Homo sapiens: one gene and its partners. The protein of the gene in region 1 purifies or fractionates together with the protein of each later gene. This does not show direct contact. Each region holds a gene or a part of one and is shown in the gene's direction. Other genes may lie near its edges. The genes, in order: TNFRSF19, JPH1, PLD1, WWP1, CST4, KLK10 and PLD2.

The links.
Region 2: the proteins of TNFRSF19 (region 1) and JPH1 purify together in Homo sapiens (affinity purification with mass spectrometry; 2 studies listed by BioGRID and IntAct, with this or other methods). This does not show direct contact.
Region 3: the proteins of TNFRSF19 (region 1) and PLD1 purify together in Homo sapiens (affinity purification with mass spectrometry; 2 studies listed by BioGRID and IntAct, with this or other methods). This does not show direct contact.
Region 4: the proteins of TNFRSF19 (region 1) and WWP1 purify together in Homo sapiens (affinity purification with mass spectrometry; 2 studies listed by BioGRID and IntAct, with this or other methods). This does not show direct contact.
Region 5: the proteins of TNFRSF19 (region 1) and CST4 purify together in Homo sapiens (affinity purification with mass spectrometry; 2 studies listed by BioGRID and IntAct, with this or other methods). This does not show direct contact.
Region 6: the proteins of TNFRSF19 (region 1) and KLK10 purify together in Homo sapiens (affinity purification with mass spectrometry; 2 studies listed by BioGRID and IntAct, with this or other methods). This does not show direct contact.
Region 7: the proteins of TNFRSF19 (region 1) and PLD2 purify together in Homo sapiens (affinity purification with mass spectrometry; 2 studies listed by BioGRID and IntAct, with this or other methods). This does not show direct contact.

What each region holds. Positions count from the first base shown.
Region 1 is NC_000013.11:23,657,412-23,660,911, forward strand, and holds part of TNFRSF19 (tumor necrosis factor receptor superfamily member 19 isoform 2 precursor), read left to right. Parts: intron 1-1,638; coding exon 1,639-1,803; intron 1,804-2,953; coding exon 2,954-3,079; intron 3,080-3,500. UniProt on the Homo sapiens protein: Can mediate activation of JNK and NF-kappa-B. May promote caspase-independent cell death.
Region 2 is NC_000008.11:74,241,541-74,245,040, reverse strand, and holds part of JPH1 (junctophilin-1), read left to right. Parts: coding exon 1-512; intron 513-3,500. UniProt on the Homo sapiens protein: Junctophilins contribute to the formation of junctional membrane complexes (JMCs) which link the plasma membrane with the endoplasmic or sarcoplasmic reticulum in excitable cells.
Region 3 is NC_000003.12:171,674,484-171,677,983, reverse strand, and holds part of PLD1 (phospholipase D1), read left to right. Parts: intron 1-289; coding exon 290-418; intron 419-1,150; coding exon 1,151-1,269; intron 1,270-3,370; coding exon 3,371-3,484; intron 3,485-3,500. UniProt on the Homo sapiens protein: Function as phospholipase selective for phosphatidylcholine. Implicated as a critical step in numerous cellular pathways, including signal transduction, membrane trafficking, and the regulation of mitosis.
Region 4 is NC_000008.11:86,429,547-86,433,046, forward strand, and holds part of WWP1 (NEDD4-like E3 ubiquitin-protein ligase WWP1), read left to right. Parts: intron 1-1,150; coding exon 1,151-1,205; intron 1,206-1,859; coding exon 1,860-1,944; intron 1,945-2,068; coding exon 2,069-2,197; intron 2,198-3,500. UniProt on the Homo sapiens protein: E3 ubiquitin-protein ligase which accepts ubiquitin from an E2 ubiquitin-conjugating enzyme in the form of a thioester and then directly transfers the ubiquitin to targeted substrates.
Region 5 is NC_000020.11:23,686,239-23,690,473, reverse strand, and holds the start of CST4 (cystatin-S precursor), read left to right. Parts: upstream 1-1,435; 5' UTR 1,436-1,504; coding exon 1,505-1,732; intron 1,733-3,272; coding exon 3,273-3,386; intron 3,387-4,235. UniProt on the Homo sapiens protein: This protein strongly inhibits papain and ficin, partially inhibits stem bromelain and bovine cathepsin C, but does not inhibit porcine cathepsin B or clostripain. Papain is inhibited non-competitively.
Region 6 is NC_000019.10:51,012,239-51,014,474, reverse strand, and holds the end of KLK10 (kallikrein-10 preproprotein), read left to right. Parts: 3' UTR 1-1,736; downstream 1,737-2,236. UniProt on the Homo sapiens protein: Has a tumor-suppressor role for NES1 in breast and prostate cancer.
Region 7 is NC_000017.11:4,813,652-4,817,151, forward strand, and holds part of PLD2 (phospholipase D2), read left to right. Parts: intron 1-766; coding exon 767-850; intron 851-981; coding exon 982-1,060; intron 1,061-1,824; coding exon 1,825-1,935; intron 1,936-2,112; coding exon 2,113-2,283; intron 2,284-2,890; coding exon of another isoform or gene 2,891-2,929; exon of another isoform or gene 2,930-2,968; coding exon 2,969-3,095; intron 3,096-3,285; coding exon 3,286-3,404; intron 3,405-3,424; coding exon of another isoform or gene 3,425-3,494; coding exon 3,495-3,500.

The sequences.
Region 1 (3,500 bases):
GTACAAATATAGACACAGACCTTCAATCTCTAGAGTTGCAGTGTCCATTATGATAGCCATTAGCCACATGTGGCTACTGAGCATTTGAAGTGTGGCTAGTCTGAATTCAGATGAGCTGTGTCTTTAAAACCACACCGGATTTTAAAATTTTAATACAAAATAGAGAACGCAAAATATGTCATAAATAATTTTTATATTGAATACATATTGAAATGCAATATTTAAGATATATTGGCTAAGTAAAATAGACTAAAGTTAATTTTACCTGTTTCTTCTTCTTCTTCTTCTTCTTTTTTTCTTGAGACAGAGTCTCGCTCTGTCGTCCAGGCTGGAGCGCAGTGGTGCGATCACAGCTCACTGCAGCTTCATAGGCTCAAGGGATCCTCTCAATTCAGCCTCCCAAAGTGCTGGGATTACAGGCATGAGCCACCGCACCTTGCCTCTCTTTTACGTTTTAAATGTGGTTCCTAGACAACCTGAAATGACATGTGAAGCACACATTATACCTCTACCTGGAGTAATCTTCAGTCGAGGGGAGGCTCCTGTGGTGAGCAGCACCTGCCGGGGAAGCAGAGTGAGGGCCCCTCAGCTCACTCAGGGCATCTGCTTGGGAAAGAGAAAATGTAACTGCCCCTCTGTGTAGATTCATGCCCCTTTTAAATCCATTTCTCTCATTATTTTGGGGTTAGTTAAGTAGGATATGCTGTTTAACTGCACTAGATATAGATCTCTGATTTAAATGAGTTTGTTTATCCTGGTACCCTCAGGATAGTTTTAAAATGGTAATTACTATCATCATCATTACAGTGGCTAATGATTCTACAGCACAGCCAGTCCCACACACTTTACATAACACATGAGCCAGTCACTATTATTACCTCCATTTGAACAGATGGCAACTTGAAATTCCAGTCAGTGTCTCAAGGTCACACAGGTAGAGGTTGACCCAGGCCATGGGGTTCAGAATCTGCCCTGAACCACAAAGCAGTACTGCCCTCTAAAATAAGATCTATTTCTTGACTTTCTTAGCACATGACTATGCCGGCCTTTCCATAGTGTAATAACAGTATTAGTCTTTTCTCCAAAACTTAGATGTTTTCCAGTAGTTTAACAGCTAAGGCATTCAGAGATGTTTACTGTCTCAAAAACTGGGGTCTACTGTAAGGTTCTGGATGATCCAACTCCTTGTTTTCCCCTAAAGTTGCCCCAAAAAGCATACATGCATTCAGTCTGCTTAAAAATATGGTGTAATTCCAATTAAGTACAAAACATTAGTTCCCTGCCACATGCCAAGTACTGGGCAACCAGAGGTAAAGATGACAGACCCCCAGCTCACAAAGAATTCTGCTCTGGTGGAGCTGAAGGCAGATTCTAGTAACACAATGTGTTGAGGATTGTGTGTCCGTAGCGCTCTGGGAACAGAGGAGAGGGACACCCTGCACATTGTGGGGTGCCGGGTAAAGGTGTCCCATTAAAGACATCTTCTGGGTGGAGGGGGTGCTTGAGCCATCTTTAAATATCTCATGCCAGTTTTCTCACAGCATGGGAAGGCCACTGGTAAGGGTGCCTGCCAGCTTCGCCATAAACACTGCATCTGCAGTTGTTCAGAGCATGCTGACCCCATTCCTGTGGTTTCAGGTGCCAGCAAGGTCAACCTCGTGAAGATCGCGTCCACGGCCTCCAGCCCACGGGACACGGCGCTGGCTGCCGTTATCTGCAGCGCTCTGGCCACCGTCCTGCTGGCCCTGCTCATCCTCTGTGTCATCTATTGTAAGAGACAGTTTATGGAGAAGAAACCCAGCTGTAAGTTTTGAGCTCATTACATTTCTTAGCATTTAGGGGAAGGGCATTTATTACTATTGTCGTGCAAGTGTTCCACAAGAGACTTGGCTGAGACAAGCACCAGTGAGTTGTGAAAGAACGCAGGGCACAAGAAACACAGGTGATCCCTGAACAGCAGAGGGCTAGGAGAGCAGTTAAGAATCCACACGTCAGTGTTGACTCCCCAAAAACTTAACTACTAATAGCCTATTGTTGACGGGAAGCCTTACTGATAAACAGTTGGTTAATACATCTTGTTTATTATATGTTTCTTTGTTTTTTTGTTTTTTTGGAGACAGAGTCTGGCTCTGTCACCCAGGCTGGAGGGCAGTGGCGTGACTTCAGCTCATGGCAACCTCTGCCTCCCGGATTCAAGTGATTCTCCTGCCTCAGCCTCCGGAGTAGCTGGGACTACAGGCGCCCGCCACCACGCCTGGATAATTTTTGTATTTTTAGTAGAAACGGGGTTTCACCATGTTGGCCAGGCTGGTCTCGAACTCCTGACCTCGTGATCCGCCTGCCTCGGCCTCCCAAAGTGCTGAGATGACAGATGTGAGCCACTGCACCGGCCTATTATATGTATTATGCCCTGTATTCTTACATTAAAGTAAGCTAGAGAAAAGAAAATGTTACTAAGAGAATCATAAGGGAGACAAAATAGATTTACTCTTCATTAAGTGGAAGCGGATCATTGTAAAGGCCTTCATCCTCATCATCTTCATGTTGAGTGGGCTGAGGAGGAGGAGGAGGAGGGTTGGCCTTGGTGTCTCAGCGTGGCAGAGGCTGAAGAAAATCTGTGTATAAGTGACCTGCGCAGTTCAAACCCGTGTTGCTTAAGGGTCATCTGTAGAATTCACTGAGGTTGCACAGCTTTGTAAGGAGACTTACAAGGCTGTGATGTCCCTGCGCCACTAGGCAAAAATAAAAATCATTCTCAGTAATGGCAACATTAGTACCCTACATTTTGAACTTTCTTAACAAATTATTTCATGTTTGTGCTTCCATGTAAGAAGAAGTCATCAAACATTGGAAGGATAGCTGATTTGTTCTTTAAAAATACAAAAGCTAGAATGGCACAGGTCCACTAGAGAGGAGACTGTGTTCCCTGACAGAGTTCTCACCCCTCATTTAGGGTCTCTGCGGTCACAGGACATTCAGTACAACGGCTCTGAGCTGTCGTGTTTTGACAGACCTCAGCTCCACGAATATGCCCACAGAGCCTGCTGCCAGTGCCGCCGTGACTCAGTGCAGACCTGCGGTAAGTTCAGCAGGGAAGTGCCGTTAGGAGGACTGGAGGTACACAGAAGCTGAAGCAGCAAGAATTGGTCCTGGTTTATTCACCTCACAGCGAGGTGGCTGTGTTGAGTCTTCTGGTTAAAACTAATCTTGTTAAATTATTCTCCACCATCTCCTGTTGGTTTGGGTGTTTCGAGTCTCTTAAGCATTAAAAAGGAAATAAGCATCTCGTTAAAATTCTAGAATTTTTCAGCAACTTTTGGGTCATGTTTGTCTTTCTTGTTTTGAGTCAGTTTATTTAAAATCACGGTAACCTTTGGTAGAGTAGGACTTTATATCCTTTGCTGTCTGGTTGATTCAAACCAAACACTAATATGCCTATTTTAAAAATATGTCTATTATAAAAATATATCTATTTTTAGAATTTCTTAAAGAAGAGAGAG
Region 2 (3,500 bases), on another chromosome or scaffold:
CTCCTGAGGCAAGTCCCAAACACAGCCACTCTCCTGCTTCCTCCCCAAAGCCCCTGAAGAAGCAAAACCCCAGCTCAGGGGCGAGACTCAACCAAGACAAAAGGAGTGTGGCTGATGAGCAGGTGACGGCCATTGTCAATAAGCCCTTGATGTCAAAGGCTCCCACGAAGGAGGCAGGAGCGGTTGTGCCCCAGTCCAAGTACTCTGGCCGCCACCACATCCCCAACCCCAGTAACGGGGAGCTGCATTCTCAGTATCACGGCTACTACGTGAAGCTGAACGCCCCCCAGCACCCTCCAGTAGACGTGGAGGACGGCGATGGATCCAGCCAGTCTTCCTCAGCACTGGTGCACAAGCCATCCGCTAACAAGTGGAGTCCCTCCAAATCTGTGACAAAACCAGTTGCCAAAGAAAGCAAAGCTGAGCCAAAAGCTAAGAAGTCTGAACTTGCTATACCAAAGAATCCAGCAAGCAACGATTCATGCCCTGCTTTGGAAAAAGAAGCCAATTCAGTAAGTACTGCAAGTAGCGTTTTCTCTTTCTTTCTTCCCTTTGTTTCTTTCAGCGAGCTGTGTGGGGTGACTGTGCATCTTGATCACAGCCAGGCTAACCAAGGTTCTAGAAGCACAGGGTTGTTTAGAGCAGCACATAACACATTGGTAGCTTGAGACAGCAAAGAGCTCTCTGGGCAGAAATTCCCCCCACCACCCCTATGTTCACCCAGCCCCACTTTAGATGTAATTCAGGTAGGTAAGACCTGACCAGCTTAGCACAGCATCTTAGCACATTTTAGCAAGGCTTTAACAGCGTGTCTTGGTGAGCTTCCTGGTAGCTTGCTCTCTGATTGCTGGAAAGGAATCATGACCCCTGCCAAGGGCCAGCCGCTCTCAGAGCTCTAGGAAAAGGGCACCAACAAGTTCTTAGTTCTCCTGTTTTCACCACAGCGGTCAGCATCTTTACACAAAAGAACGTCTCCTCTAGCCGTTGTGAATTCTTCTCATACATACGTAGTTTGGACTTTAATTAGCCAGGCTTTGCAGCTAGAACATTTTTCTTTCCCAAAAGAGAACTGAAAATTTCCAACAGTTCAAGAGAATTTCTTTGGTCTTCTGTCTTTTCAAAGTGTGAGAACTCTTACAATTTCAGTTTTCTGGTAGATGCAGGTTATTAGTATCAATTAGTCTTAAGCATTTAAGATATTTATTTATTATTCAGCCAGAAAAGCTCTGTGTTATTGAAAAATCTTTATACCTTCTTTAAAAGGAGATTTTTTGAATAATGTATGGAATTAGTGTTTTATCAAATGCTATAGTATTTATAAAATCTGAAGCTAATTATTGATTAAAAAATGACCTCTTGACCTGATCACATCCCTTTAGAACAGAGGTGTTGAAAGTTACACACCTAGTATTCACTAGAAATTATAGAGACATATTTGCATAATGGTGTGGATTAATATCTTGGCCAACAAGAATATAGTACAGCCATCAGTTTCTTATTTTTGTCTGTTTGATTTACTCACAGGATTAAACAATTAAAATTCCTCTGTTAACTTATGCTTAAAATTTCTTGTGTGTTTATTTTGCTAATATCTATAAAACACTGGTTCTCTTCTTTTTTCAAATTTTCAACTTTTTAATTAGCTAAACATAAATTATTCAGATTAACTGGACCAACTTCCTAGGAGTCCACCTGCATGGAGAAAAATTGTTTTCAAAACAGACTAACTTTAAGATTCTGACTCTTCAGTAAGCATTCATTTTAAAGATTTTAAACCTTAATATGACAGTATCTTGACATTACAACTATAATAATCACTATTGAATTTGTTAAATGTAATAGCTTACTTCTCATTTGACTTTCAGCATGTTTATCCCCAGGTTAATAAGGCCTCGCATATATCAGTGTTAGTTTGCCTGATTTACACAGGGAAAAATTCAAACAATGCAAGGCCATACCTTTTATACCTTTGGGTACCCATTTGTGGGCTTTAGTTGACTTCTAGACTTCTACAAGGGGAAGTGTATGCCCCAGCGTCCTATACATTAGGCTGTGATAGGGGGAAAAAAAAGTTGAATTACCCAGCTCTTAGCTGAAAGAGTCTCTCTGTAAAACAGTAGTATACGTATGTTTGGTAAATTCACAGCCTCCTCATTTAGAAAAAACATCTGTTTTACTTATTTGCGGAATTCTCAGATTCTTGGAGTTAGACAAGCATCCTCCATCTCAGTAGTTGGTCCTTAGGGTACCCCTCTACACCCCAAGGGGGAAGGGAAGCCCCAGCAGCTCCGCAGCTACCCTGAGCTTTAGACTGCCTCTGCAAAATTCAAGACCGACTTGACACCTTCACGCGAAGATTCTAATAATTAACATTGTCTTCCCAATAGTAACAGAACGCTGCCGTCCCCACTCCTCAGAGTTAGGAAGTGGCACAGTCATCATAAATGTTGTCAGTGGATGACCTTTAAGATAATGGAGTACTACATAGTTTTGAGAGAAAGACACTGTATAAGTTAGACATTCGTGAATAATTTTAAAATTCACAGAATTGAACTCTGTTGCTGAACTTCCTCGGTTCACATCCCAGCTCTGTTGCTTACCAGCTGTGTGACCCTGGACAGTTTCCTAACTGCTCTGTGCCTTGGTTTCCTCATCTGTACCTATCACAGGGTTGTTGTGAAGATTAAATGAGTCAATACTTTAAAAGTTCTTAGCATAGTGCCTAGCGCAGAATAAATGCTCAAAAAACCTTGGCTATTATGATGTTTGTTTCAACACAATGCTAACTGAAGCATAAGCAGTTCAGAAATATTCAAGTAGATCTGATCCATCCTCAGGATCACCCTGGCTATTGATCTCCTAGAAATACAGAAAATCTCCTGGGATGGAGACTAACACAGGAAATTAGTTAACTCGAGTATGAGAGGTAGGAGAAGGGAGGCTGTGGCATTGATTACTTTCTTGAGGAAGATTTTCCTCAAGAAACTTTTGTGACCCCTGTGGGCAATGGTTGCGTATGGACTCATGTCCTAGGGGCACGCATTCAATGTGATCCCGAAATTTTTGTAGAGTTTTGCAACATGACAACTCTGGTAGGGTCAGAAGAGGCATCTTTAGCGTCTTACCATCAAGTAGACAAGAGGGGAATTTTCCAATTAGGTATCTCAGCCCATTCTGAAAAATGACTACACTTTTTTCTCAGCCATTCCTGTGATTTGCATCCAAGTTTGTTTTGAGGTTCATCTAATCTTTCTTTTGAATTTGTGTAAAATTTAAAGCGTCCCCATCAAATTGGGTTTGAACCTCACCCCCGAAAGAGGTAAATATATATAATTAAACTTTGCTGTTAATACTTAATTAAACTTTGTTCTTCTCTTGTGTTTCTAGCTAGAGAAGCTTTAGATTTCACATAAACCATAGTAACTCTTCTAGCAGAAAATTCCTTACAGTTTTAAATATGAGTGACAATCTCTTAAAGGAAAAAAAGATAATTTTTTGAG
Region 3 (3,500 bases), on another chromosome or scaffold:
TCCAGTGATCTGGTAGGTGGTGGAAATAAGTTACTCAACTGCCTGAGAAGGTCAAATTTCATTGTTTAATGATGAATCTTGTTGTAGCCCTAACTGCCCACTAAAAGTAAACTTGTAAGGACTGTAAAACCTTGTTAGCCCACAGCCTGTAATAGAATGGACAGATGCCACCCTAGTTGTGTCTTAAGAAATTAAGAAGCTTTTAGGTGTTTAATAAATGAGAGTTGAGCCTCCCTTTCTGGGACTCACCTGAACCACAGTCTCTGAGGGGGTCTTGCTGCATTCACAGATACCGGGTCCATCCGTAGTTTACAGACAGGTGTGGGAGAGCTGCATGGGGAAACCAGATTCTGGCATGGAAAGGACTACTGCAATTTCGTCTTCAAAGACTGGGTTCAACTTGATAAACCTTTTGCTGGTGAGTATCATAATGGTGGGGTGCTGGTTATATTTTGTCTTTTACCTTTGAACATCTCAGCAAGTATACATGTGCATGATCTAAATGCCTTTTGTTTTGCTTCCGTTGATTTTTGAAAATTTTTTAAAACTTTGGAGACTAGATTTAGTCATTAGCATGTGCTTAAGGACTTTTTTTTCAGTTATAATAAGAAAAGAACATGAAATAGAGCTGAACTGTCTGAAAAATCCAGATTTTTATAGGCATATTTTGGGGGCAATAATCAGTAATTTTTCAGGAAATGGTAGGCTCCCTTTGATCATCTTCTATTCTGCTTATTTCCTGCATTTCCAGCGTTAGAATGGCATATTTTCAGGTTATCACTGGGTTTATATGTTTAAGAGGAGATAGAGATGGCATTGCCTGCCATTGTTTCAACAGGATAAAAAATAAAAAATATAATATCAAATACACAGCCTTAGATAATTTGTACCAACTCACATCTTGCCATGTCTAGTGATTATCTAATCCTAAGTGAAACGGAAACATATGTGGGGAAGTGCCTGGGAGACTATGTCCCTGAATGTGAAATCTGTTTCCCTTGATTATAAAAATGTTGTTCTATGCAAGCCAAGAAATATATACCTAGTGGGCACTAACCCACGTTTCCTTTTAGTTTCATAGTTGGAGTCAGAGAGACTTTGCCCCAACACTGAAGTTAATGACTGATCCTTGCCTGGTGCACCCGGGCAGATTTCATTGACAGGTACTCCACGCCCCGGATGCCCTGGCATGACATTGCCTCTGCAGTCCACGGGAAGGCGGCTCGTGATGTGGCACGTCACTTCATCCAGCGCTGGAACTTCACAAAAGTACTTGGATGTTGCTATCATGATTTATCCACATGAAGAGAGGCAGGCCTAACTAGAGAAGAGGTTTAGAGGAGGCTGGTAGCAAGAAGAGACTGTTGTGGCCACAACTGTGTCACTGCTCTGCTGTTGGCTGCATTGATGTCCGGGTGCCTGGGCATCTGGGCAAAAAAAAAGGGAAACATTCCCGAATGTCCACACCATAGACAATTCAGAGTGCCTAGGGACAGGTGCTGCTGTGTGGGTCCTGATTTTAACCTTGTTAACATCTTGGACACAGTGTTGACTAAGCATTTAGTAGCCTGGGCTCGGTAGTCATTTGCAGGGCTGTTATAGGGGGATAGGAGCCTGGTTTAGATGAGAGGGCTTGAGCTTTAAAGTCCCATCCAGTTGGATGGGACTGGAATTGCACTGGGTTTATATTGGTACAGGATTCTGAGAGCTGGTTCTGAGCAAACCAAGAAGTATTAAGAAGGTGGGGCCATTTTCCTTTTATCCAGATTGTGTCCTCATTACTTGTAAGAACTTGACATAACATTCAAACCTAACATTCATAAGTTAAGTACGTATCATTCAGGCCAGGCACGGTGGCCCACGACTGTAATCCTGGCACTTTGGGAGGCCTAGGCTGGTGGATCACCTGAGGTCAGGAGTTCGAGACCAGCCTGACCAACATGGTGAAAACCTGTCTCTACTAAAATACAAAAATTAGCTGGGCATGGTGGTGGGTGCCTGTAATCTCAACTGCTCTGGAGGCTGAGGCAGGAAAATCACTTGAATCCAGGAGGCGGAGTTTGCAGTGAGCTGAGAGGACTCCATTGTACTCCAGCCTAGGCAACAGAGCGAGACTCTGTCTCAAAAAAAAAAAAAAAAAGTACATATTCAGGTGTTATTAAAGTTTCACTTTATTTACTTGAAGGGATAATGAGTCATGATTCCCCTTGGTCGTTTGGAAAAAGAATTTAGTTTTATCAACCACTTAGAGTCTAACTTTGTTTTTCATTCACATAATGATTATAAAAATTTAGTGGACATTCTAATTGAAATTTTTTAACAAAAATTTAGGGGAGATGGATGAATAAACAAATGGGGTGTTACTTTTAACCTGCTATACTGGCAAAGATAAAAGTCTCTGCTGATACCTGTAGTTAGGTTTGGGGTGGTTTTTGTGGTGTGCTCATACATGCTACCCCAGGGAGGATAAATTTGTACAACACCAATAAGTCTTTTTTAAAGTATGCAATCTTTGATCCAGAAAAACTATTTCCGGGTATTCAAACTAAAGCCATAATCCAATAAGGTAATTTATTTTGATATGGCTTCTAATAATTCAAATAAAATTAGAAATAACAGAAATCCTTACTAATAGGAATTTATTAAACAAATGATTCTTTTATACCATTTTACTATGAAGTTATTAAAAATAATGATATCCCACTATATTGCTGTGACAAGATATCTAGAACATAATCAGTAAAAAATTAGTTTATAAAACAATAGTCTCATTTTTGCAATTATAAAGTTCTGTAACTACAGATTATATTTAACCTGTCTTTACAAATATAAAACAATATTTCCCCTACAAAAGGTAAAAACAGGACTGTGAGAAGTAGAAAACAAACACAAATAATCTGTAGCCCTTCACTTAGAAATGTCCACCATTAACATTTTTCTTTTTCTTTTTCAAATTAACCTGAATTTCTTTTCTTTTCTTTTTCTTTTTTTTTTTTTTTTTTTTGAGATGGAGATTCACTCTTGTCACCCAGGCTGTAGTGCAATGATGAAATCTCGACTCACTGCAACCTCTGCCTCCGAGGTTCAAGTGATTCTCCTGCCTCAGCCTCCCGAGTAGCTGGGATTACAGGCGCCCGCCACCATGCTTGGCTAATTTTTGTATTTTTAGTAGAGATGGGGGTTTCACCGTGTTGGCCAGGCTGATCTCGAACTCCTGACCTCAAGTGATCCCCGCTTCTTGGCCTCCCAAAGTGCTGGGATTACAGGCGTGAGCCACTGCACCTGGGCATGAATTTCTTTTATAATCACAAAGTAGGGAGAATGAATCTTTTTTCTCATTTGAATATTTTATCCTTTTTCTTTATTTTAGATTATGAAATCAAAATATCGGTCCCTTTCTTATCCTTTTCTGCTTCCAAAGTCTCAAACAACAGCCCATGAGTTGAGATATCAAGTGCCTGGGTCTGTCCATGCTAACGTACAGGTAAGTAAGTTCTGGC
Region 4 (3,500 bases), on another chromosome or scaffold:
GTTATAAGAATGGAGGCATACATAAAAATGTGTTTTTATGTATGTATGAAAATATAAAAGATACTAATTAAAAGTTTATTTCTATAAATGATACTGGAGTTGAGTGTTAGTTTTATTAGTGGGCATTTGTTTTAAAGAAAATTGTGATAACTGTTCTATTTTTAAACAAATAATATTGCCTCATTTAAACATCATAATTTCCTATATGTTCTTCTCCCATTTCATCTTCCCTCTATAGATTAGTATGGAAGGACTGGGAGAGTAAAGTATTGATGCCAGTGTATTATTTTTAAATCATTTTCGAAAAACTAATAATTAATTTGATAGTTGATAGTCTCCTCTTCGTGACATTTTATGAACTTAGTGTCTTGGCTGGGAGCGGTGGCTTACACCTGTAATCCCAGCACTGTGGGAGGCTGAGGCGGGTGGATCGCTTGAGCCTAGGAGTTCGAGACCAGCCTCAGAAACATGGCAAAACCTTGTCTCTACAAAAAATACAAATATTAGCCGGGTGTGGTGGCGCATATCTGTAGTCCTAGCTACTCGGTTGTTGCTGAGGTGGGAGGATTGCTTGAGCCCGGGAAGCAGAGGCTGCTGTGAGCTGAGATCACGCCACTGCACCCCAGTCTGGGTAATAGAGCAGGAAGATCCTGTCTCAAAAAACAAAGAACTTTGTGTCTTGAAATTGCTATATTTCCTTATAATGTGGACCTATCTATCTGTCTATATAATAATATAGATATATTTTTGAGACAGCTTCTCGCTCTGTTGTGCAGGCTGGAGTGCAGTAGTAGTGTGATCACAGTTCACTGTAGCCTCCACCTCCTGGGCTCAAGTGATCCTCCCACTTCAGCCTTCCAAGTAGCTGGGACTTTAGGCATGTGCCAACACATCTGGCTAATTAAAAAAAAATTTTTTTTTATAGAGACAGGATCTTCCAGGCTGGTCTTGAACTCCTGGGCTTAAGTAATCCTCCCACCTTGCCCTCCCAAGGTGCTGAGATTACAGGCATGAGCCACTGCGCCCAACCCCTTATCATATTTTTAGAAAATTATTATAAAATGTGATTCTGCCACATGCTTGGCTTATTTCTACTTTCATATTAAAACACTGTTATTTTATTTCTCTCCCTAATCTTTTCTCCAATCAGGCTTCAATGTTAGCTGCAGAAAATGACCCTTATGGACCTTTGCCACCAGGCTGGGGTAAGCTGTTTTTGCTAATGATCTATAAGGGAGATATATATCTCTCCATATATATATATATATATATATATATATATATATGTTCCTTATTTTATATATATATATCTCCCTTATATATGTCCCTTAACATATATATATCCCTTATAATATATAATATATTTAATATGGATTATATATTCTATATATTATATATTCTGTAGAATGTTATATATTCTGTATACTATATAGAATATATAATCCATATTAAATATATTATATATTATAAGGGATATATATGTATATTATATATGTATATATTATAAGGGATATATATATGTATATTATAAGGGATATATATATGTATTATATATATAATATACAGAATATATAGAATAGATTATATATTAAAGAATTATATATTATAGAATATATATTATATTCTACATAATTATCTATAATATAATATATATTATATTCTCTATAATATAATATATGTTATATTCTCTATAATATATATTATATTCTATATAATATATTCTATAATATATAAGGGATACATATATCCCTGATATGTTTTTATATATATAATATATATTATATATAATTATATGTGTTCCTTATTTTATATATAGATCCTAAATAGTTATTAAATATTATACTCACTTTATATTTCAGAAAAAAGAGTGGATTCAACAGACAGGGTTTACTTTGTGAATCATAACACAAAAACAACCCAGTGGGAAGATCCAAGAACTCAAGGGTATGTATATACAGCAGCCTTAAGTCGTCTTGCATATATCAGTAGGTAGAACCAACCAACCTTGAATGAGATATTTTTAGTACCTAGAAAAGGTTCATCTTGTGATTTTAACTTTATCTTTTAGCTTACAGAATGAAGAACCCCTGCCAGAAGGCTGGGAAATTAGATATACTCGTGAAGGTGTAAGGTACTTTGTTGATCATAACACAAGAACAACAACATTCAAAGATCCTCGCAATGGGAAGTCATCTGTGTGAGTGAAAACCTGAAGTTCTCCTTTAAATATTGCTTAGTGAGCACATGAGATTTAGTCTCTAATTTATCCTCAAGTTTAGCAAAACATTTTACTTTTTGGTTCAAGAAAACCTACACAAGTGAAACCTTAGTATAGCTGTCTTTGCTCTCATTTGACAATGGATTTGCAGCATGTAAACTATTTATGTAGTGATTACTGTGTGCCGAGGATTGTTCTAAGTACTTCATAGGTATTAACTCATTTTATCTTCCAATAACCCCTTGAGGTAGATACTATTATTTTTCCCTTTACCAAGTGAGGAGAGGTATAGGGAGCATAACTAACTGTGCAAAGTTATAAGGCAAGTAATGGAGCTGGTTTCTAACGATGACAGTCAGTCTCTGTCTAGACTCTGTGCTCTTAACTGCCACATCACACTGCTGCAATGAGATGGTCAGTGAAATGATTTTTCCAGATTTAAAGATACCTTAATTAAGCGGTTGACAGATCTCTCCTTCATTCTTACTCTAAGGTGTCATGTCTTTGCATAACTAAGAAAATAGAAGCAATCCTAAAAGGTCTTTTGCAAAGTTGTACCACCATATCTGTCCGTCTCCTACCATCTCTCCTCCCTCCTGTTCCTATAGATGAACTGTCATTGTTATTATCAAAGTCTCGTCCCTCTGCTGGTACATTCGATTCCTACCCCCACTTTTCTACTTAATTGCTCCAACAGTTATCACCTTTGTGTTGCATTATCAGGTTTTATTTCTCTACAAAATTATTCTTATCAGCTGTTATTTCTCCTAGATATAAAAAAAAAGCAAAAAAAAAAAGAAATTACAACTCTTCCCTTTACCAATGTGTTCAATCGCAGTTCATTTTTTTGTTTTTTTTTTGAGACGGACTTTCGCTCCTGTTGCCCAGGCTGGAGTGCAATGATGCGATGTCAGCTCACTGCAACCTCCACCTCCTGGGTTCAAGCGATTCTCCTGCCTCAGCCCCCTGAGTAGCTGGGATTACAGGCACCCGCCACCACACCCAGCTAATTTTTGTATTTTCAGTAGAGATGGGGTTTCGCCATGTTGGCCAGGCTGGTCTCGGACTCCTGACCTCAGGCGATCCACCTGCTTTGGCCTCCCAAAGTGCTGGGATTACAGGCGTGAGCCATCACACCCAGCCCACAGTTCATTTTTATTGCTCCCCTTTACAGGAAAGCTACTTGCATGGTTGTCTCTGTATTGCTGTTCATAGTTTCTCCTTTAAACCAACTCCAAGGAAGTTCCCCTGACACTGAATTTGCAAGGGCACCAATGATCTT
Region 5 (4,235 bases), on another chromosome or scaffold:
ACGTGAGTCTTCCAAGGAGTGCACAGAGGAAAGGAGCCTGAAGCATGGCTGCCTAGGAGAGAAGCAAGAGAGGCCTGTGGGTTCCCACATTCATCCCGTGGCTGCTGCTCCCTCTCCTGACACCCCCACTGCCTCACAGGGGTCTCCGTGCACCTTCCACCGGTCCTCACCCACAGTTACCGTGAGACTCCAGGTGGTTTCCTCCCTTGCTCACATCCCCTCCAGGAGCTTCCTCTTCCTGGAGCAGGCATGTCCCAACCCCACCTCAGGGCCTTTGCACTGGCTGTTCCCCGCTGCCTGGGGCTGCTCAACCTCTCCAGTCTCATAGAGACCACCCTGACCAGGGTCCAGTGGTCTCTCTCTAGCCCCTGTTCTATTTCACTTCCAACAGAGTGAGTATAACTCCCTGATCCTAATTGTTGATCGTAACCTACCATCCTCTACACACACTGTGTAGGAATTTACTGTGCAGTTCCACAGCCACCAGCCACATGTGCCACAGGACACTTGAAATGGGGCCAGTCCAAAATGATTCCTGGGCTAAGTGTAAAAAATACACAGGGAATTTCAAAGATTTACAAAACCAAAAAAAAAAAACACACATAAACGATCTCATTAATAATTGTTCCCGTTAGCTGAAATAATATTGTGGCTATATTAGGTTAAATAAATATTTTAAACATTACTTTCACCCATTTATTCTCATCTTTTAAAATGCATCTACTAGAAATTTTCAAATGCTTGTGGGTTCATGTCACATCTCTGTGGGCAGCAGCTCTGCAATGTCACCTCTATGGCTCATCATCCAGGTTCCGTCTTCAAGCCCTAGACCTCCTGGCATGGGCAGTAACTGGTGATAGGTTTGTTTATTGAATAATGAGTTATGAAAACAGAAGCCAGTGACCTTTTCCAAAAAGGTTAATTCCCTTAAATTTGGCAAAGAAATTCTCCATATTAGGGTGTGGACAGGGTCTTCTGGAACCTTCTGAAATAACCTCTCTGTTCCAGAGATTCAGAGACCGTGACCAAGTGCTCCTGGAAGCCTCTGATATCTGAAGACCCCGGGAGGCCAAGCCCTGTATTTTTCCCCTTTCTGAGCAAACAGGAAGTCACATTGCTTTCACAGTCAAAGGACCAGTGTCACCTCTGTGGAGACCTGGGTGACTCAAGCTTGGGAGCACTGGGGAAGAGAGGCATGGCTCAGGGAGGCTGCAGTGAGGACTGGAGTGGGGAGGAGGGGGAGATGGAGGAGGAGGCCTGGGAGGGGCAGGGGGAACTTAGGCAGGGAGGGAGCTTGTAGTGGTGGGGGAGTGAAAAGAGAGATGGAGAAAGAGGGGATGGGCAGAAAGAGGAGGAGGAGTCAGGGGCAGGGCATGGAGGTGGGTGGGGCTGGGCTGCCAAAGCAGGATAAATGCACACCTGCCTGCTGGTCTGGGCTCCCTGCCTCGGGCTCTCACCCTCCTCTCCTGCAGCTCCAGCTTTGTGCTCTGCCTCTGAGGAGACCATGGCCCGGCCTCTGTGTACCCTGCTACTCCTGATGGCTACCCTGGCTGGGGCTCTGGCCTCGAGCTCCAAGGAGGAGAATAGGATAATCCCAGGTGGCATCTATGATGCAGACCTCAATGATGAGTGGGTACAGCGTGCCCTTCACTTCGCCATCAGCGAGTACAACAAGGCCACCGAAGATGAGTACTACAGACGCCCGCTGCAGGTGCTGCGAGCCAGGGAGCAGGTGGGTGCTGCCTCCACCCGAGGGGTCCTGAGCCCTAGCCTGGTTTGTTGCCGGACCCCCAAGAGCATTCCAAGCAAATCAACACTGACACATTCATGATCTAATGCTCAGATTCATTCAGCTTTCTCTGACTCTCCGCTGATGCCCTTCATGCCTAAGCATGCTCCCGGTCCATGCACTGCAGACAGTTAAAGGAAGTGCTGCAGCTTCCTTTAACCTGCAGCAGCTGCTGTGTCTGTACCATGACCGTGGCATTTCCCAGCGTCCAGCAGGTGTGGATGGAGACTGTGCTGACTCTGGGTGGGCTTGATGCTGCTCAGGATGAGATCCAGGCGGTGAGGCTCATTCTCCTCCCTGAGTCCTCTCCTCAGGGGCCACATGGGAACCTGGCTCCCTGTTCTGCAGAGCCCTTCTTCCTTCCCCAAGTCATGCCCTTGGGCACAGCCCCTTAGGGCTAGTGGCCTTCACCCTCAGGCAGGCTGACCCACCCCTGCAGGCCAGGATGGCTGAGTCCCTGCTGGGGTGGAGCACGCCTGGCCCTGCCTCTACGAGCTGATGCAGAGTTAGACCTCAGCCAGATGAGGACAGCAGTCACCCAGCAGAGCAGAGGAGGGGTTAGGTCCAGAGTGAGCTTCAGCAGGGCAACTGGGCCCAGCTTGACCTGCATCCCATGGCAGAGCAGCAAATAGTGACACAGCCTTTAGAGCTCCTCCACCTTCTAGAAATTCAAAGGAATCCAGACCAGTCCCGTTTCTCCTCCTACAGCTGTCAGCTGGAGCCCTCACCCTGCACAGGAGGTGCACTCCCTGGTGCCATGGTCCCCGCTGGCCTGCATCTCCCTCTTAAGCATGACAGTAACTTGGAGTGAAGCACAGGGCATTGCAGACCATCAGACCTGGAAGCCTATTTTATACATGGGTAAACTGATACTCGAGGGATCTCAGCAGTTCCTCCTGGTTCCAAAGAGTCCCTCATCCCAGGTTTCTCCACAGCTCTGCCACGTAGTGTCTGGGAGAGGCCCTGTGCAGGGAAAGGGTTCAATTATAATCTGCAATTGTAAGACACTCAGGTGTGCTGCTGACTTGAGAAACGTATCTTGAACCTCACACTTGAAATGGTGGCATCTGGGCGGCCCCATTGACCCAAAATATCTGTGTGTGTGAAGCATCTCATTTCCTACTCTAAGTGAAGTAATAAATCTAGGTTAAATGGAGGGAATAAGATTTTCGTGAGTTAGCTGAAATTTTGTCATCAGACAGCCTTCCTAGAAAAGAGTCAGTGTTCCCTCACCCCTGAGCCACAGGTAGCAGAATTCAATGAATCCTCTTACCCAGCACAGAGAAAACGATGTTTAAGAGCGGGCATGAGGCTCAGCACCCTGCCAGCTGACAGGAAGAGGGGGCTTGTGTGCCTTGTGTTGACATGTGGGCAGCTCACGAAGCCCCCAAGCAAGTCCAGTGACTCAGCCACAGTGAAGTGCCTGTGAGTGCATGAACTGATGGGGGCGCTGTCCGTGCTTCCTGTTTTCTCCTGTGTGCAGACCTTTGGGGGGGTGAATTACTTCTTCGACGTAGAGGTGGGCCGCACCATATGTACCAAGTCCCAGCCCAACTTGGACACCTGTGCCTTCCATGAACAGCCAGAACTGCAGAAGGTACGTTCCTGATGCGGGTCCCGGGCCAGTCATGCACTGCAGAGGGGTGCGTATGTGTCAGCCTCTGTCCTACCCATGTTTGGACGGTGTGTGTGTGCAGGTGGGTATGTGGGGAGCCGTGTATGCATGGATGTGTACGTGTTCATGTACTTATGGGGGGGTGTGCATGTAGGTGTGCATGTGGAAAGGTGCACGTGTGTACACACATGTGCCAGTGTGTGCGGGTAGGTGTATGGAAGCATGTGTGCCTGTGTGTGGGTGTGTGGCGGAAGTATGGGGGTTTGTACATAGATCCATGGGGATGAGGGGTCCAAGTGAGTTTACGTAGTTGCCTATGTGTGTGCAGATGGGGTGGTGAGGGAGGGGGTGATGTGTTTGATTTGCTAGGAAGGCTTTAGCTTGGGAATGGTTACTAGAAGGTCAACTGCCTGCTTTGGGGTGTTGCCTGTTGGACAGGAAGAATCACCTGCGGGGCTGGGTGCTGGGCAGGGAGAAGGGGATCTGTCTAATCCCAGCCTCAGGCACCTGCATGCAGCCAAAGCCACAATCAGATTAGTGGGACCTAGAGGCCTGTTAGCTGGGAAGCCCTGGACCTGCCCGGCTCACCCAACACCAGCCTCTCCAAGAACCTGCTGGTTCTTGTGAGGTCTCCACTCAGGGGAGAGCGGCACTCCCCTTGTTGCCCTTGACCCATGCCCCAGCTCTTTGAGGGGGAGTTGCCCTGCCCTGGGTTCTTCCCTCTGGCCCCTCTTAGTGCTGGCCTGGGTGCTGGAGGTGGAAGGAGCTGGGGGAACTGAGCCACCTCCCCATGTCCTGCACCCTTGGGGCTCCCGAGGCCTTGCCCAGGCT
Region 6 (2,236 bases), on another chromosome or scaffold:
GCTGTGTGACTTTGGGCAAGCCAAGTGCCCTCTCTGAACCTCAGTTTCCTCATCTGCAAAATGGGAACAATGACGTGCCTACCTCTTAGACATGTTGTGAGGAGACTATGATATAACATGTGTATGTAAATCTTCATGGTGATTGTCATGTAAGGCTTAACACAGTGGGTGGTGAGTTCTGACTAAAGGTTACCTGTTGTCGTGATCTGACCACGTCCCGGTGAAAGCGTGTGTCCAGGGAAGAAGTGCACAGGGTAGCCCCCAGTCCCAACCTTCCATCCCCAACCCTTAGGGATGATGGAAGAATCATTTTCCTCACCCTAGTTCCAAGTCCCAGGAAACACCTTTTAACCACTTCCTTCTCATCTCCCACTGTTTCCCACTTCTGGTTCCACCCAACACCAGTTCCTCCGAGCTAGGCTGGCCCTGAGTCATTAGCACCTTCTCTGCCTTCATGAGGCCACTGAACTCAAGGGACCTCACCTTGCTTCTATCCCAGCCTCTAAGACCAGAGGGCCGAGGGGGTAGTGAAGATTGGGAAACCCTTGCCACCTCAACTGCCCAGCTTGTGCCAAGAAACCTCCCTCTGACATTTAGGGGAAAATCTTTGGTTTGTCTGTTATTAATTGGCTGTGAGATTTTCGTCCTGAAAACTTGGGAGGAGGAATTGTTTGATTCTCCCTGAAATTGGGGGAGGGAAGGGGAGTTAATACACAGAATCCAGGTAAGGCTAATAGAAGCTTCAGTGTCCGCTGGGTGTGGTGGCTCACGCCTGTAATCCTAGCACTTTGGGAGGCCGAGGAAAGCAGATCATCTGAGGTCAGGTGTTCGAGACCAGTCTGGCCAAAATGGTGAAATCCCATCTCTACTGAAAATACAAAAACTAGCCAGGCATGGTGGCAGGCACCTATAATCCCATCTACTTGGGAGGCTGAGGCAGAAGAATCACTTGAACCCGGGGGGCAGAGGTTGCAGTGAGCCAAGATTGCACCATTGCACTCCATCCAGCCTGGACAAAAGAGCAAAACTCCATCTCAAAAAAAGAAGAAGTTTGAGTGTCTCAGCTTATCCTGAACTTTGAAGCAGTAACATAAGCTAGCTGAATATAGGCACAACAGAAATTTCCCATTAAGCACGGGGTTTTTGTTTGTTTGTTTGTCCTTTCAGTTACCAATTTATGGAGCATCTATTATGTGCCAGGCCCAGTGCTGGGTGCTGGGGACATACGTAGGGGTGATCACAAGGTCCCCCACCCTGCAGAGCCCACAGGAGGTTGATGTACAAGGTCTGAGCACACAGCTCCCTTCCGTGGCCTCTTTCCCATTCTGCCCCCATTAGCACACGCAGGAAATGTCAGACAGGCGTATCAGCTGGGTTTGTCATCCAAAGACCAGAAGCGAGGTCGGTGGAAACTTGAAAACTCGATTCATTATTAAAGGCAACTCACCCGTCCCTTTAGTCACTCCACAATGTTTATCGAGCCACGTCTTATGCCAGGCCTCAAAGATGAATCAGACCAGGCACTACCCTCAAGGAGCTGCTAGTTAGGTCAGGGAGACAGGCCAGTCTTACATTCCTGTCATTCAGGTCTCCACTCAAAAGTCACCTCCTCCGGGAGGCCTTCCTGAATTGCCCAGGCTATAGGAGTCCACTTTTGGTCATCCAGTCCCGATGCTCTGTTTTTTGTTTGTTTGTTTTTTTTTTTAATAGCACCTATTATACCTGAAATTATCTCATTTGTGTTTACTTGATAATGGTCTATGTCACCCTTCCCCACAAATTCCGTGAGGGCAGTGATTCAGATATTTGTTCACTGTGATTTTCTAAGCTCCTGTATTGTGCCCGGCACACAGAAGTCACCCCCGTTGCTGTGTGAACACATAACACAAATAGATCAGTGCTGTAACAGAAGGGGGTATGGGGTGCACCACACCAAGTCCACAGGCTGTGCCTGAAGGAGTCAGGAAAGGCTTCTCAATGAGGGGACATTTGTGCAGGAGTTTAAAGGATAAGTAGGAGTTCACCAGGTAGAGAAGGAAATGCATTTCAATCACTTTGCTGTATGACTTTGAGCAAATTACTTGAATGCTGTCTCTTCCTCAGTTTTCACTCTGTGAAATGGAGACACCTGCTTAATTAGACTCCCGTGAGAGTTAAATGAGATAGGCTGGGCGCAGTGGCTCACTCCTATAATCCCAGAACTTTAGGAGGCTGAGATGGGTGGAATGCTTGAGCT
Region 7 (3,500 bases), on another chromosome or scaffold:
AGTTCAAGACCAACCTGGCCAACATGGCAAAAACCCGTCTCTACTAAAAATACAAAAATTAGCCAGGCGTGGTGGCGGGCGCCTGTAATTTCAGTTACTTGGGAGGCTGAGACAGGAAAATTGCTTGAACCCAAGAGGCGGAGGTTGCAGTGAGCCAAGATCATGCCATTGCACTCCAGCCTGGGTGACAGAGCGGGACACCATCTCCAAAAAGCTATATATATATTTTTTGATACTGCCAAATTGTCTCCTAAAAGTTATATTCCCATAGTCTATGAGAATACCCACTTCCCCAGCATATTGAATATTGATATTGAATGTTACCAGTGATTTGAATTATTACCAATCTAATGGATTTTTTAAATGTAATTTCATTTTAATTTCGTTGTTTACTAGTGAAACTGAACATTTGCCACGATTGGCCATTTTAATTTCTCTGTGAACTGTCAGTTCTTACTCTTTGCTCATTTTTCAGTTGGCTCATGTGACTTTTTCTTGTCGATTTATTGGTGTTCTTTATGTATGATGTATTAATCCTCCTGTTCTTTAGTTGATTAGGTTATTGTGTCTTTTTGTAATTTTTATTTGTATTTAGCGCATATGGGCAAACACTATTTTGATGTGTCTGATACCACTTGTGTTCTCTGATCATTTCTGATCTTTGACCTTGCTGTCACCTCTGACCCACGACTGTCCTCCGGTCTTCACTCTCCAGAGCTTTCTGGCTTCTGACTCCCCTGACCTCCTTGGCTTGGCCTCCCCCCAGGTTTGTGAATGGGGCAGGTTACTTTGCTGCTGTGGCAGATGCCATCCTTCGAGCTCAAGAGGAGATTTTCATCACAGACTGGTGGTGAGTGGGAAAAGGCCCCAACAACATGGGGCAGGATAGAGCCTGGGGCAGATCAGCATTAGGAGGAGAAGGGGGGTGCAGCTGGTGGTCTGGGGCTTCGTTTGCCCCTAATCCACTGCCCTGAATCCCAGGTTGAGTCCTGAGGTTTACCTGAAGCGTCCGGCCCATTCAGATGACTGGAGACTGGACATTATGCTCAAGAGGAAGGCGGTGAGGAGAGTGGTCAGGCCGCAGGGGGAGGGGGTTGCCTGTGGGTGGAGGTTGATTAGCAGGGCTGCAGTGTGGGAGAATTAGGCAGTCTGAGGCTTCAGGGGAGGGAAAAGTGTCCATCCTGGCCCAGCACCTGTCAGACATCACCTCCGCCCTCTCCCTCTGCCCTAAGGAGAACTGACAACTTCCTCTTCATGCTCCCTCCACCTGGCAGAGACTTCCCTCCCAGTATACATAATACTTTATTGTGTTATCTGGGGGTATACATGTCTATCTCTCTCACTGGACTAGTTAATATCACTGTTCCACTACAAGGCACAGTACCTGCCATGGAGGGGGCATGTGTGGTGTTGATGGACAGGAAGAAGGATGCATGGATGATGCAGGGTGGCTGGGCAGGTGGATGGATAGAGGACAGAAAGGGTGATGGATGGAAGGATATGAGTTGGAAAGGTGGAGGGCTAGGAGGGTAGGCAGGTAGATGGATGAATGATAGACGGTACATAAAGGGATGAGTAAATGCTTGGGAAGATGGATGGATGGATGATGAAGGGTGGGTGGATAGATGTGTGGATGGGTGAGTGGGTGAGCACACAGATGACATTTAGTCTAAGTCTGTGGCAAGCAGCAAAGCAGGGCATATGTGGCAGAGCCTCTAGGATCTCCAGACAAGCTGGAGGGACACACGTGGAAAAGGTTTGGGAGTGTGGAAAGGGGCTACTCTGGGAGAGGCACTAGGATCTGATTCCCCAACTCACCACCAGGAGGAGGGTGTCCGTGTGTCTATTCTGCTGTTTAAAGAAGTGGAATTGGCCTTGGGCATCAACAGTGGCTATAGCAAGAGGGCGCTGATGCTGCTGCACCCCAACATAAAGGTGACTCTCGGCCTCAGAGACCCTCCCACATGACAGCCCTTCTCCCCACACTGTCCCAGCCCCCAGCGCTCCCGCTCCCTGATGGTCTCATCTTTCCATCTTTCCTCTCTCCCTCCCAGTACCTCCTGTTTTCCTTCACCTAAACCCACCCTCATGAACCCTCCATGCCTGCTCCAGGTGATGCGTCACCCAGACCAAGTGACGTTGTGGGCCCATCATGAGAAGCTCCTGGTGGTGGACCAAGTGGTAGCATTCCTGGGGGGACTGGACCTTGCCTATGGCCGCTGGGATGACCTGCACTACCGACTGACTGACCTTGGAGACTCCTCTGAATCAGCTGCCTCCCAGGTAATCCCCCTGAGGCCTTCCTGAGCACCCCCAAACTCAGATAAGCTCAATCAACACCATTTCCCAGCTCCAGCCTTACCCCCTCAGTCATTCCAGGCCCTGCCAACCTCAGGGTTCCTCAGACTTTCTGGGACTCCAAGAACCCACTTTGAAAGTGCTGTAACTGGCCGGGAGCCATGGCTTATGCCTGTAATCCCAGCACTTTGGGAGGCCAAGGCGGGTGGATCACCTGAGGTCTGGAGTTCGAGACCAGCCTGACCGACATGGTGAAACCCTGTCTCTACTAAAAATGCAAAAAATTAGCTGGGCATGGTGGCAGTTGCCTGTCATTGAAGCTACTCGGGAGGCTGAGGCAGGAGAATCACTTGAACCCAGGAGGCGGAGGTTGCAGTGAGCCGAGATTGTGCCATTGTACTCCACCCTGGGCAACAGAGCGAGACTCTGTCTCAAAAAAAAAAAAAAAAGTGCTGTCACCCACCCAGTCCTTTCCCCATTTTCACTGACCATCACCCCATTCCTCTAAAAGTGTCAAAGGCAACTGGAGGGGAGGGCTGGGGAATCAGACCCTCTGTTTCATTCTTCCTCTCGGTCTCTCTCACTCTTTCAGTGCTCCTCTCTTTGGCCCTGGCTCTGTACAGCCCCATGACTTCCCCTTGCCCCTGGCTTGGGTGTGTTCCCCCTACAGCCTCCCACCCCGCGCCCAGACTCACCAGCCACCCCAGACCTCTCTCACAACCAATTCTTCTGGCTGGGCAAGGACTACAGCAATCTTATCACCAAGGACTGGGTGCAGCTGGACCGGCCTTTCGAAGGTGAAGCCTCCCACCCGCCAAAGCCCCAGAGAGCTGAGAGCAGGGTCAGAAGCTGGGGCTGGTACTGAGAGTGGGATGAGAGGGGTCAACGGTGGTACAGCCCTCCCTCTGGCAGGCTCTTTCTCCCTGCCCCAAGTGTCCCAAGGAGTCCAGCCCTGACATCTCCCCTGACTCTCCTGGGACCCCCCAGATTTCATTGACAGGGAGACGACCCCTCGGATGCCATGGCGGGACGTTGGGGTGGTCGTCCATGGCCTACCGGCCCGGGACCTTGCCCGGCACTTCATCCAGCGCTGGAACTTCACCAAGGTGTTCATTCCCTCCGATAGGGGCTGGAGGTAGGGAGGGAGCCAGGGCAGATTGGCACCTCCTGCTGACTCTGCCATCCCTCCACGTCAGACCACC